Regions from separate parts of the Homo sapiens genome. Here region 1 is linked to region 2. The links come from fine-mapping of genetic effects on gene expression. A gene starts in region 2. The other region holds a variant in brackets. All regions are shown on one strand. Distances are from middle to middle. Region 1 has its middle 32 kb from the start of ACBD3-AS1. Region 2 holds the start of SDE2 (spliceosome associated SDE2).

Region 1 (4,383 bases), 120 kb after region 2:
ATTCCGGGCGCTGATCTGCTCAGTAGTTTTCCTGCTTGTTTTTATTTATTTATTTTATTTTTTAAGACAGAGTCTCACTCTGTCACCTGTCACCCAGGCTGGAGTGCAGTGGTGCAATCTTGGCTCACTACAAACTCCGCCTCCATCCCCACCCCACTGGGCTCAAGCGATTCTCCCACCTCAGCCTCCCGAGTAGCTGGGATTACAGGTGTGCACCACCATACCCAACTAATTTTTGTGTTTTTAGTAGAGACAGGGTTTCGCCGTGTTGCCCAGGTTGTTCTCCAACTCCTGACCTTAAATGATCCATCTGCCTCAGCCTCCCAAAGTGCGGGGATTACAGGTGTGAGCCACTGCGCCCAGCCTGCTTGTTTTTATTTTTAAGCCTGACTTTCTTTTTATTTATTTATTTATTTTTTTTTTTTTTTTATTGATCATTCTTGGGTGTTTCTCGCAGAGGGGGATTTGGCAGGGTCACAGGACAATAGTGGAGGGAAGGTCAGCAGATAAACAAGTGAACAAAGGTCTCTGGTTTTCCTAGGCAGAGGACCCTGCGGCCTTCCGCAGTGTTTGTGTCCCTGGGTACTTGAGATTAGGGAGTGGTGATGACTCTTAACGAGCATGCTGCCTTCAAGCATCTGTTTAACAAAGCACATCTTGCACCGCCCTTAATCCATTTAACCCTGAGTGGACACAGCACATGTTTCAGAGAGCACAGGGTTGGGGGTAAGGTCACAGATCAACAGGATCCCAAGGCAGAAGAATTTTTCTTAGTACAGAACAAAATGAAAAGTCTCCCATGTCTACCTCTTTCTACACAGACACAGCAACCATCCGATTTCTCAATCTTTTCCCCACCTTTGCCCCCTTTCTGTTCCACAAAACTGCCATTGTCATCATGGCCCGTTCTCAATGAGCTGTTGGGTACACCTCCCAGACGGGGTGGTGGCCGGGCAGAGGGGCTCCTCACTTCCCAGTAGGGGCGGCCGGGCAGAGGCGCCCCTCACCTCCCGGATGGGGCGGCTGGCCGGGCGGGGGGCTGACCCCCCCACCTCCCTCCCGGACGGGGCGGCTGGCCGGGTGGGGGGCTGACCCCCCCCACCTCCCTCCCGGTCGGGGCGGCCGGCCAGGCAGAGGGGCTCCTCACTTCCCAGTAGGGCGGCCGGGCAGAGGCGCCCCTCACCTCCCGGAGGGGGCGGCTGGCCAGGCAGGGGGCTGACCCCCCCACCTCCCTCCCGGACGGGGTGGCTGCCGGGCGGAGACGCTCCTCACTTCCCAGACGGGGTGGCTGCCGGGCGGAGGGGCTCCCCACTTCTCAGACGGGGCGGCTGCTGGGCGGAGGGGCTCCTCACTTCTCAGACAGGGCGGTTGCCAGGCAGAGGGTCTCCTCACTTCTCAGACGGGGCGGCCGGGCAGAGACGCTCCTCACATCCCGGACGGGGCGACAGGGCAGAGGCGCTCCCCACATCTCAGACAATGGGCGGCCGGGCAGAGACGCTCCTCACTTCCTACATGGGATGGCGGCCGGGAAGAGGCGCTCCTCACTTCCTAGATGAGATGGCGGCTGGGCAGAGACGCTCCTCACTTTCCAGACTGGGCAGCCAGGCAGAGGGGCTCCTCACATCCCAGACGATGGGCGGCCAGGCAGAGACGCTCCTCACTTCCCAGACGGGGTGGCGGCCAGGCAGAGGCTGCAATCTCAGCACTTTGGGAGGCCAAGGCAGGCGGCTGGGAGGTAGATGTTGTAGCGAGCCGAGATCACGCCACTGCACTCCAGCCTGGGCACCATTGAGCACTGAGTGAAGGAGACTCCGTCTGCAATCCTGGCACCTCGGGAGGCCGAGGCTGGCGGATCACTCGCGGTTAGGAGCTGGAGACCAGCCCGGCCAACACAGCGAAACCCAAAAAATACGAAAACCAGTCAGGCGTGGCGGTGCGCGCCTGAGGCACTCGGCAGGCTGAGGCAGGAGAATCAGGCAGGGAGGTTGCAGTGAGCCGAGATGGCAGCAGTACAGTCCAGCTTCGGCTC[G/T]GCATCAGAGGGAGACAGTGGAAAGAGGGGAGGGGGAGGGGGAGGTGGAGGGAGAGGGAGAGTTAAGCCTGACTTTCTAAGGGTTGTCCCTGGAAGCCAGTGATTGGTCAGAGGTTGTGAGAAACAATTTGAGCCAGTAAAGCTTCCACTGTTTGCTAATGGATCTGTGTGTAGATTGTGAGGAACATATTCAAAGTCCAGACAACTTTACAAGTCTGATGCTGCTTTTGCTTTCCCCCAGGCCCTTTCCTGTCTCCTCTGCAGTGTGCCAGTCACGATGTTCTCCTCCGCATGTGTGGGTAGCTAGGGCCCTCTCTGGTCTCTCTTGAGTGTGATGCAAACTTTCGCATGCCTGCAGCCTTCCAGACCACTGAGGGTGTGAGGCCGCTTACCCACTAATCCCTCCTTCTCAGAGGAGGGTCAGGGTGAGCCGTGTTCGGGCCCTTAGTGCCACAGTCAAGAAGGATGCCTGGGCCGGGCGCAGTGGCTCATGCCCGTAATCCCAGAACTTTGGGATGCTGAGGCAGGTGGATCACCTGAGGTCAGCAGTTCTAGACCAGCCTGGCCAACATGGTGAAACCCCGTCTCTACTAAAAATACAAAAATTAGCCAGATGTGGTGGCGGGTGCCTGTAATCCCAGCTACTCGGGAGGCTGAGGCAGGAGAATCGCTTGAACCCAGGAGGCAGAGGATGCGGTGAGCTGAGATTGTGCCATTGCACTCCAGCTGGGCGACAAGAGTGAAACTCCGTCTCAAAACAAAAAGGATGCCAGGACCTCAGGCACAGCCCAGAAGCACATGCTCCCCTGCTGAGGTGCTGCAGGGAAAATGGGGGTCTTTCTGCTCCCATAGAAAGATGACTTCTGCTCCCAGGCCAATTCTACATGGCCTTCTCCCTTCTCTTCCCCTTCACAAATATATTCAACGGTCCACAGGCAGGGGCCTTGGGGAAAGAGATAACAAAGACAAGGTTCTCAATGACAAGAAACTCGGGCTAGCCTTAAGTGATTAACTCTCTCTTTTTTTTTTTTCTTTTTTTTTTTTTTGAAATGGAGTCAGTCAGGCTGGAGTGCAGTGGTGCAATCTTGGCTCACTACAACCTCCATCTGCTGGCTTCAAGCCATTCTCCTGCCTCAGCTTCCCGACTAGCTTGGATTACAGGTGCCTGCCACCACGCCTGACTAATTTTTGTTTTTTAGTAGAGACGAAGTTTCACCATGTTGGTCAGGCTGGTCTTGAACTCCTGACCTCAAGCCTTCCACCTGCCTCGGCTTCCCAAAGGGCTGGGATTACAGGCATGAGCTACCACGCCCGGCCCGTGATTAACTTTTAGACAATATCCTGAGTGCCCCAACCAGTGTTAACTGGGAGCTAAGGGGAGAGTGCTGGTAGACAGATACTGTGCTCTGAGGGATGAGCACCCCAGCTTCCCCCATGCACCCGCAATTCAGGATGTTGTGAGTGATGTTCTTTCCTTTGCATGCCTCACTTTTTTTGTTTGTTTGTTTGTTTGAGACAGGTTCTCTCTATGTCGCCCAGGCTGGAGTGTGCAGTGGTTATTCATGGGTATGATCATAGCGCACTGCAGCCTCCATCTCCTGGGCTTAGGCGATCCTCCCACCTCAGCCTCCCGAGTAGCTGGGACTATAGATGTATACCACTGCACACGGCTGTATGCCTCAGTTTTTATGAATATTTTATTTATTTACTTGTTGGGTAACATTCATGTAGCTCAACATTCTGAAGGGGCCAAAGGGTATTGAGGGACAACTCCCCTCCCTTCCCCAGCCCCCAGCAACCTGGCTTCTGTGCAGCCCTGTGTTCCAGCTGTAAGGTTTAGGCTCCCAGGTATGCAGCAAACATTTCCCTGCCAGTGGGATAATGAAGCTGCCTGTCAGGAGCACCTCCAGCCCCAGCCCTGGAGATGAGACTGCCTTATAGCGCTCTAGCTTGATGGGCGCAGATGACAGTGACAGCCAAGGCCAGAGGAGGGCAGGACCAGAGTGGGTCTAGGGACGTGGGAACCTGGGAGAGGCTAGGAGCAAAGCAAGGAGTGTCCTGGCTTGGGCCTCATCCTCCAGAGTCCCAAAGGCCTGCTCACTCAGCCCTCAGGGTGACCAGAGACCTCAAGTATTGCAAAGTCTCCACAGCGGGTCTCTCTGACTGCCCTCACCACGCAACTCCTGAGGGCTGGACTCTATCCTGTAGGAGGTGGGGTGGGGTCCACTCTTTCCCTTTGGATGGGGGCAAATGGCAATTGTATTCCAGATGACAAAAGGGCTGTTGATATTTGGGGGAACCAGGTCGGGAAGGGGAGTTGGGGGAGGATTCTCCTGATGATCTGTTCCAGCAGA
Region 2 (4,383 bases):
GCCCGCCTCGACCTCCCTAAGTGTTGGAATTACAGGCGTGAGCCACCACGCCTGGCCTATATTTCTTGCTTCCGATTTAAAAATTCTTTTTTCCAACATACCTCATGATTAAGATCCTATTTTTTCTGGTTTCACTTTGGATCAATTGTCAGCAAGTTTGAAAACTGTACTCATAGGCCGGGAGGAGTGGCTCAAGCCTGTAATCCCAGCACTTTGTGAGGCTGAGGTGGGCGGATCACCCGAGGTCAGGAGTTCAAGACCTGGCCAACGTGGTGAAACCCCGTCTCTACTAAAAATACAAAAATTAGCCAGGCATGGTGGCGGGCGACTGCAATCCCAGCTATTTGGGAGGCTGAGGCAGGAGAACCGCTTGAACTCAGCGAGGCGGAGGTTGCAGTGGGCCGAGATCACGCCATTGCACTCCAGCCCGGGCAACGGGAGTCAAACTCCGTCGGGGGTGGGGGAGGGGGAGAAAAGAACACTGTACTCATGAAATAAGAATTATTTTCAAAGGAATTAGAATGCAATTATTTTCATGGTCAAAAACAGTTGTGCTTACAGTTTTTAGACTGGATTACAGAGCAGGAAGGAAAACATGGAAAGTGAAAAACCGTATTATTTGCAAACACACATTGCTTCTTCACGGAATCGATCCAAGTCTCTTAAAATTTTGGTCTAGACTGCAGTGTTAACATTTGTTAAGCTTATAAATAGTAAGCAGAGGAAATAGCCGAGGAAAGCACGGATGAGGTGCGGAAAGAACAGAGTTCTAGATCAAGTGCCAACATTAAAATTAGATTCAGGGAAACCACTAAATTCTTTTGACAACTGAACAGGTTTAATATCTTATAGCTGGTAAAAGCTTACTTACTTGAAAGTTCAGTAAAAGCTCACGTGTAACTCTGGAAGTCCCTGGTAGGTTTTCACAAATATGCACGGACAAATGAGACCATCAAATTAATAGTGAACACTTCTACGTAACAGGCCCTAAGAACCCAGGCCCTCAACAGGACACACGTGTGAATGCTTGGTCACAACGACTGACCAGAAGAATCAATTTTCCTTCCCAATCATCCTTTGGCCTGGGTTTGGATATGACATACTTCTCTAGGCTGGGGCTAACAAGGCTGTGTGATGAGTGGACAAAATACACGTCACATAACCATAGTAAGAAGGTGAAGACTGGAGCCTTAAAAATCAGCCGGCCCAACTGCCAGAAGACCATTATATTTACGGATAAAGAAAGAGAAACAAAGTATTTGTAACTGTGAGCGGGACTAAGTGCCTGTAACAGTTTTTTTCTCCCTCTTGGTGGGAAGGCAAAACCACCACCACAAAAGAAAAGCAAAGGAAGGTCTCAGTAACAATTCGAAGCACCTTAACACTGAGGAACTCTCAGCCTCAACGAGTGAAAACCCCAGAGAATAAACGTACCCCCGCCCCGGACAGACCTACTCCGCACCCAGCGCTGCCACCTGTCTGCCTCTTTCTCCTTCCTAACAGGAACCGAAATCCTCACCTGATCTTGGCAGTGCCGGTGGATAAAATCCCGGACGGTGCACCGACCCGAGGCACACCGCACCGCCTTGCACCCGAAGCCAGGGCCGCGAATCCACACCAGCGCCGCGGCCTCCGCCATGTCACCGACTACCCGAACCTCAAGCCTCTCTGAGACACCAGGCGCCGCAACTCGCCCGGCGCCTCTTGATGACGCGAGCATCTTCCAACGCCCCGCCCCTCACGCTTCCGTTCACCCCTCCCCTCCCCTGGGGCGGGTCAAGTGAGCCGGGCGGCGGGGCGGTGCGGGCTGGGGGAGGGGAACAGGAAAGGCCTGGCGGAGGCAGATAAGGCGGCAGAGCACGGGGCGAGGCGTTGCTAGGAGAAGTTGCTAGGGCGGGGCTCGAGGGACCGGCTATAAAAGGCTGGCGCTGGGTTAGGTTTCGAGCTTCCTGGCCGTAAGCGATAAGGCTTTAACTGAGAACCACCTTGTGCTGTAGGCTTTGGCCCTTTTCCTCACATCTGTGTAGTTATTTTTGGGTCGCGGAGAATTGTGGCCCGAGAAGGCTCTGCTCCTTGAGAGTGTGGGGAGAGAAGCTGCAGTCCCGGAAGCGGTTTTAGGGGGCCGCTTCCTTGGCCTAGAGGAGCTCCCCAACCCGAGGGGGCAAGGGAAACGACCCCCAGGAGGCCCCTAAACAGTGGCCGGCGTGGTTTCTCCTCCAGCTTTACAGAGCCTTCTCTTCCCCTCCAGAAACAGCCAACCTCCGGGTTTCTGCCTGCCACGCACGGTTTATTCTTATTTCCGCCTGTTTGTGCACTGCGTTATCTCCACTTCAGCTCTGTTTTCAAAATATTTCACAGCAAGTGGGCTCTTGTGAAAGGCAGTGACAGGAGTGACGTTTATAGTCATGCTGCTTCAAAAAACCCTACCATAACTTTTATTCTGCACCATGGAAACACACTCGGACAGATTTGCATAACGTAACCTTAAGGCTCAGGGAATCCGAAAGAGTCCCTTAATATTTAACAGAATGAGATTATGGTATTTCTAAAACCCTGAACAATTCAAAAGCCACCAGTGTGAAGATAGGAAGGTTATTTGGAGATATCTGTGCCTGCTAAACACAAATGCATCGGCCCACAGAATTGCCTTCTCTGCTGTTAAAATGCTTGGCAAATGGAACTCCTAGCTGAGGGGGTAACAACAAAAAATTCAGAAATCGTTTAGCGGTGGCAGTATGTGCGAAAATGGAATTTCAAGGCCTGGGAAGTTAATAGATTCAGTGGTCTTTATTTCACACACGAGGGAAAGTTGGGGAGAGAAAGGGCCTCCATGGGGATGCCAGTAGATAAATAAAAATTACAAAAAAAAAAATAATAAAGATAGATTGTACTGGCCGGGCGCGGTGGCTCATGCCTGTAATCCAGCACTTTGGGAGACTGAGGCGGGCGGATCTCGAGGTCAGGAGTTCGAAACCAGCCTCACCAACATGGTGAAACCCCATCTCTACTAAAAATACAATAATTAGCCGGGCGTGGTGGTGCGCGTCTGTAATCCCAGCTATTCAGGAGGCTGAGGCAGGAGAATCGCTTGAACCCGGGAGGCAGAGGTTGCAGTGAGCTGAGATCGTGCCATCGCACTCCAGCCTGGGCGACAGAGAGAGTCTCCGTTTCAGAAAAAAAAGATATATTGTACCTAGGAAGCAGTATTTCGGAAAGGTGGTGCCATGGCAACCCTGGGGCGTGAAGGTGTCGCCAGGTTACATGTAAGCCGTCCAAACTCCAGAAACCTCAAGTCCCTCTGCAGTCTGCTCCCCAGCTCTCTGTCCTCCAGGTTCCTGAAAAAGTAATCTACAGATCTGAGCCTTAAGCCTCTTCTTTTTTTATTTGTGATTTCTTCCTTCTGGTGATCAAAAATGACTATTTCAAATAAATAAATAATTTTTTTAAATGACCATTTCAAAGGTCTGAGATCCTACAAGTAACTGTATAAAGGTCAGTTTGGGTTTCCAAAACATTTTTTGTGTCGGGATAATGCTTCGTGTCTTGTGAGGAATTATTATGATTAGTCTTTTTTTTCTTTCTTTCTTTCTTTTTTGAGACACTCGCTCTGCCACCTGGGCTGGAGTGTAGTGGCGCAATCATAGCACACGCAGCCTTGAACTCCTGGGCTCAAGTGATCTGCCACAGACTCCAGATGGATTACAGGTGCATGCCACCACACCTGGCTAATTTTTAAATTTTTTGTAAAGACGAGTTTTTCGCTAAGTTGCCCAGGCTGGTCTTGAACTCTTGGGCTCAAAAGATCCTCCCGCCTCAGCCTCCCAAAGTGCTGGGATTACAGGCGTGACCTGCCGTGCCTGGCATAAGTAGTACTTTCCAGTAAGGAAACTCCACATCATTTATTACTAACATTATATTTAGTCCTCATAAAACCTGATGTCTGAATGGAATTTTTCGCTTTTTATCCCTCTGTTGCATTTAAATTCCTATTATTTAAAGAATCCCAAGTATTGAATAGGTATTTGTCATTTAAAATATGAAATAACCATTGATATTAGCTTTTGAAAGACACAAATTTCCAAGTAATATATAATTTGTTGTTAAAACTTCAAAATGAGCGTGTAGTACCATGACATGTACAGAGTAGATATTAAGTAAATATTAGTTGGATACTTGATGGATTACTAAGGTAGAAGTTAATTATTCTCAATGTACATATGATGAAATATATTTTGCACTAATATAACAATCTATTGTAAGGATGCAGAATTTAACTTGGATTGCTATTAAATTCCTTTAAAGAATGAGGAAATTGAAGCATGTAAAGTTAGGGCTATGGCCAAGAACACAGTGCACATCAGTGAAAAAAAAAAAATCTAGAAA

What was found. PIP is the estimated chance that this variant, and not a neighbour inherited with it, causes the effect. A credible set is the group of variants that fine-mapping cannot tell apart.
Region 1: its variant is the best candidate, but not a certain one, in a credible set for the expression of SDE2 in whole blood (INTERVAL, PIP 0.81).

Annotation. Positions count from the first base shown.
Region 1 is chr1:226,113,890-226,118,272 of GRCh38, forward strand. No RefSeq gene overlaps it. Among named protein-coding and RNA genes, the nearest start is that of ACBD3-AS1, 32 kb to the right of the region's middle. RefSeq lists an enhancer at 1,191-1,995. The variant G/T (reference allele first, on the strand shown) is at 2,030.
Region 2 is chr1:225,997,674-226,002,056 of GRCh38, forward strand. SDE2 (spliceosome associated SDE2) reads right to left here and starts at 1,670. Exons shown (of 7, transcript NM_152608.4): 1 at 1,520-1,670. The coding sequence starts at 1,639. RefSeq lists enhancers at 1,525-1,634, 2,155-2,304, 2,325-2,424, 2,505-2,554 and a silencer at 1,695-1,974.